Linked DNA regions of Homo sapiens: region 1 is linked to region 2. The links come from fine-mapping of genetic effects on gene expression. Tissue or cell type: whole blood. Region 2 holds a variant in brackets; the other region holds the start of a gene. All regions are shown on one strand. Distances are between the middles of the regions.

Region 1 (2,500 bases), 42 kb before region 2:
GGCTGCCCCCTTTGCCGCCGCTTGTAAACGATCAGAATCGCCCCGCCCTGGGAGCGGGCCGGGCAGGTGGCCCGCAGCAGGGCCTGTCGTCCAGCCGGCCTCGCGGGGGTGGAATTCTTAAGAAAACTGAGCCCCCGGAAAGGCTGGCTCTCCCTGCCCCAGACTCAATTCCAGGGAGATGACCCGGGCCAGGCCTCGGGGCCGGCGGGAGGCAGGGGGAGGGTTTGCCGCACCCGGTCTAGGAAACTATTCGTGAACCCCGCTGGGGGAAGGCGAGCCTCCGACACTGGGGGATTGTCTGGATCGGAGGGCGGGGGATCAGGGAGAGGCGCAGACACAGGGCGAGACCCCCACAGAGGGCAGCGCAGAGACAGAGAGAGGGAGAGAAAAGCCAGAGGCAGAGACACAAACGCGGGCAGCCGAACACGGAGGCAGGCGGGGAACGGAAAGAGACGGGCAGACCAGGGGAAAGTGAGCGGCGGAAACGGAGCGACGGAGAGACAGACACACGGACGTGGGGACCGAAGCAGAGGGGGCCGCGGGAGGCGGAAACGTCCAGAGCCGAGAGGCGCGGCGCGGCGAGGCCCGGGCACGGCCGGGGGACATGCGAGCCCGGCCCGCCCGGCCACGCATCTCCCTCCCTCGCTCCCTCTCTCCCCCGGCCGCGGAAACTCCGATCCAGAAACGGAACCCTGGGGCGAGTCTGGGGACGGGCTCCGGACGCGGCGGTGCCCCCCGGCCACCCCGTGCCGCGCCCACGTCCCCAGCGCCGGCGTCCGGAGGCGCCCGCCAGGTCCCCCAGGGCTCCTGAGCTCGGCGGCGGCGCCTCCACCCGGTGCCCGCGGCCGCCGGACGCGCCGGGGGACGCAGCTCCGGGCTGGGGGCGCGGCACTGCCCCCGCGGCCGAAGCCTCTGGAAGCCGGGCGCCCGCGTGCCGACCCGGGCGGGACTTACCGCGCGCGCCCGCCGGTCCTGCGGAGCTGGGTGCGGGGGTCGCGGGCCCGGGCGCCCCAGGAGGCTCGGCGAGGCGGCCGGCAGGGCGGGGGGCGGCCCCGCGACGCTCGGCTGGGCTGCGCTGCGCGCTGTCTGCGGCCCCGGGCGGGCGCGCGGCGCGGGGGAGCGGCTCCGACGTCAGGGTGGCTCCCTCCAAACAGGGCGCGAGGGCGGGGGCAGCGGGGAGGGCCGCGCGCAGAAAGAGCGGGCGGGCGCGCGCGGCCTCTCCCTCCGGGTGCGCAGGAGGGGGCGCCGCGGCGGCAGGGGCCCCGGGCCCTCTCCTGGCCCGCCCGCCCCGGGCTGAGCTTCGGCGCGCTCCGACGGCGTGGTGGGGCGGCCGGGACGCCTGGCCGGCGCCCGAGAGGCAGGGCAGCCCAGCCGGGCGCCCTGGCCCGTTCTTAAGCGCCCTCCCCGGGTTTCTCTGCGCTTCCACTCTCTCCGCCCGACTTTTACCGAGCCTGGGCCGTCAGGCCGTGCCAGGCCTCGGGGTGACAAAGATGGATGTGTCCTTTTTGTGGGCACCGGGCATTGCAGACTTGCCCCGAGAGTGGGGCGCCCCAGCCCGCCGCGTCCCGGCACCAGGAGTCCCCAGTTCTGCGGTGCACCTCATCCCGTCCGCTCCGGCATGCGACCCGGTTCAAGTCCGTGCTGTTGGTAGCCTGGGTTGCTCAGCCTTGCCTAGTGTTATCCTAGTGTCGCTCTCGGCCCCACGCCCTTGGCTTAAGCATCCCGAAAAGCCCCAGGGACTTATTAGGAACTAAAAAGCCAGCAAATGAACTCACTTCTCTGACTCCTGGGAAGAGTGGAGCTCCTGGCCCCAGCTTCCAGCCTCACCTCGGGGGTTCCTATCTAATCAGTGGGCACTTGGGTGGATTGCGGCCGTACCTTCTCTATTCTGTGTGCTTAACAACGGGGTGAGAAAATAACTTTGCTTCTGGAAAGTGGTGGCCCAGGGACACCACTGGGACACGATTGTAGGACTTGGGGATTTTGCTTTACAGCATAGTTACCTGTGTCCATGTGTTTTACCTAGCTTGGCTGGAAACTTCCAGATAGACACAGCCCTGCTTGTCTGACTCATGAGGTTGCCGGGCATCCTGGGTGGCTCCTAGTGGCCTGCTGGGAACTCCCTGGTGTACTCCAGCCTACTCGCACCCTCCACACCCAGCCTGCATCTGCGCCTCCTAGCTGTTGCCTGCGCCCTTCCCTCTGCCCGGAATTCCCTTCCCCTCCTTTCATCTCTGGCAAACATTCTTCCAGCTCCAGATTGGAAAGCCTTCCCAAGACCCTTTGGGAGCATCTCCCTCCTCCAGTGTGATCCTGGAGCACAGGATGAGAACTTCTGTTCATGTCAATTTCCCTCTAGAATAACTGTGTACATCTCTTGGGCAAACATTCTTCCAGCTCCAGATTGGAAAGCCTTCCCAAGACCCTCTGGGAGCATCTCCCTCCTCCAGTGTGATCCTGGAGCACAGGATGAGAACTTCTGTTCATGTCAATTTCCCTC
Region 2 (2,500 bases):
TTTTCTCATCTCCTAAAATCTTATTTTCCTTGGGAAATTGAAAACAGACATAACCTCTCATCCAGTCCAGGGTGACAAGCCCAAGCTGAGGACATCGGCTCTGTGGAGACCAGAACGATTTAAAGTCTCCTAGGTTGATAAGACACTATGCCTTCTAGCCTCACTAATAAGAAATGTGTGACTTATTCATGCTCATGGGTACTAAGACAGATTACCCATACATACAAGGAAAATAAACACCACAGCCCTTGAACTGAGTGGATAAAGAAAGCCAGAGCATTTAATAAATCTGATAAAACTTAAAAATAAATCCATAAAATAAGCAAAACCCATTAATGACGCATTCACATAAAACTAACGGAACATGCCATTCATAAAATGTAATATTCTTCACTCCTTTTTAATTTCCTGCAATAAGGCTTTGGCACTACCACTTAAACCAACATCATCCCTCTACTTGTTTAAATACAAAAGTGCTCTCTGGTTTATGTTTCTCAGTTGACTATTCCCAAACATTTTTAATACTACTTTATTATTAAGATCTACTGACAGTTAATTTACATTCCCAGATGAAATTAAAAGTTGGTATAAGTCCCAAGAACACAAGGATACATGATCAAACATGTGAACGGGCAGAAATCTACTTTACTTGGAGTTTTTCAGTTAAATACTAATTCATTCAGTTAATAAACACACTCTGAGAAGCAAATATGGGCAGAGAACGGTCTACAAAATTCTCAGCAATACATGTCATTCATTTAACAATAATTATTGTACGCCTCCTCTAAACCAGGCGTTAGGGGATCAACAGTGAACACAACAGCCTCTGGTTCTTATGAAGTTTACATTCCAGGGAGAAGAAACAATCAAGTAAAGAAACCAATTACAAATTTCAAATGGTGAAACATGCTATTAAGAAAAATGATGTGATAAAGAATAAATAGAATACCTAGGAACTTCTTAAATGCTAACAGGGTTACTAAGGAAAAAAGACCTATCAATGTCAAACTTTATAGATGAACTAGGCAATGTATGTAGTGGCAGTGGCAGGAATAAGAATAGAGGTCAAAAAGAAGTGTAAAAATGTGACAGGAATAAAGAAAAAGAAAGCAACAAGGGCTAAAAAAGTGGAAAAAAGAGAAGTGGATGTGTAACAAGTAAGGGCCCACTGTGCCCATCACTCAGAGCTCCCTTCCAAGAGAAAGATGGGTTTTAATTTTTGCTATTGTTTTTAGATCCATGGGCTTAATTTATCAGTTCAAACCATACTAGAAATCACCTATTCTTCCACACTATTTGATACAAAATA[AATAG/G]AGGTTTTAAAACCCGAATAAGCAGGTAAAATATAACTGCTTTTCTTTTTTTTCCTTTTTCTTTTCTTTTTTTTTTTTTTTGAGAAAGGGTCTTGCTCTGTCGTCTGGGCTGGAGTGCAGTGGTGCGATCACAGCACACTGCAGCCTCAACCTCTAGGCTCAAGAGATCCTCCCACCTCAGCCTCCCAAGTAGCTGGTACCATAGGCGTATGCCACCACACCCAGCTAATATATATATTTTTTGCTGCAATGGGTCTAACTATGTTGCCCAGGCTGGTCTCGACCTCTTGGGCTCAAGTGATCCTCCCACCTTAGACTCCCAAAGTGCTGGGATTATAGGCATGAGCCACTGTGCCTGGCCTAGAACTGCTTTTCTTAAGATAGTAATGGGGGCAAGGGTATTTATAAATAAATGCCTCTTCCTACAGGACAAAATCATATGATAATTTTCTATTAAGATATTATTCAAGCCTCAGGGTGAAAAGATCCTTGAAGATTACTTTTTTAAAGGACCACTGCCTAAAGTACAGGCTTAAGAAAGCTATTTAACTCAGCTATACAACACCTATGCTAAACACGAGTGATTATAATAGTCATCGTACAGCAAACAGGTGGGAAAATAACCCTGGTGAACCCTGGAAGCAAAACACTTTAGGTATAAGACAACCAAACAGAGAAGGACTCACAGAAGTTGCTGTGCATTCACCATGGCTTCCCTTCAGTCTTTGCCAAGCCAGAGTATGAAATTATCAAGATGGACCAGGTGTGGTGGCTCATGCCTGTAATCCTGGCACGTTGGGAGGCCAAGGTAGGTGGATCGTTTGGACCCTGAGTTCAAGACCAGCCTGGGCAACATGGTGAAACCCCATCTCTACAAAAAATACAAAAGTTAGATGGGTATGGTGGTGCGTACCCACAGTCCCAGCTACTCAGGAGGCTGAGGTGGGAGGATCACCTGAGCTCTGGAGGTCAAGGCTGTGGTGAGCTGTGATTGCACCACTGCACTCCAGACTGGGTGACAGAGTGAGACCTTGTCTTAAAAACAACAAAAACCCACAGTGAAATTATCAAGATGGAGCTGAAAGCCTGCATTGGCCTTTTCTTCCTGTCTATGTCTTCCACCAAACCTCTTACCTATCTTATGACAGGCTGCCATTCCCTGAGTCTCCATCTCCATTTTGAAATAC

The links. PIP is the estimated chance that this variant, and not a neighbour inherited with it, causes the effect.
Region 1: NBL1 starts here. The variant in region 2 is fine-mapped to the expression of NBL1 in whole blood (INTERVAL, PIP above 0.99).

Annotation. Positions count from the first base shown.
Region 1 is chr1:19,642,901-19,645,400 of GRCh38, reverse strand. NBL1 (NBL1, DAN family BMP antagonist) reads right to left here and starts at 1,090. Exons shown (of 4, transcript NM_005380.8): 1 at 955-1,090. All of the region lies in intron 1 of MICOS10-NBL1 (MICOS10-NBL1 readthrough), which reads right to left. RefSeq lists a silencer at 1,005-1,344 and an enhancer at 1,243-2,078.
Region 2 is chr1:19,600,471-19,602,970 of GRCh38, reverse strand. All of the region lies in intron 1 of MICOS10-NBL1 (MICOS10-NBL1 readthrough), which reads right to left. The region is part of intron 1 of MICOS10 (mitochondrial contact site and cristae organizing system subunit 10); the gene reads right to left. Among named protein-coding and RNA genes, the nearest start is that of MICOS10-NBL1, 4.7 kb to the right of the region's middle. The variant AATAG/G (reference allele first, on the strand shown) is at 1,310.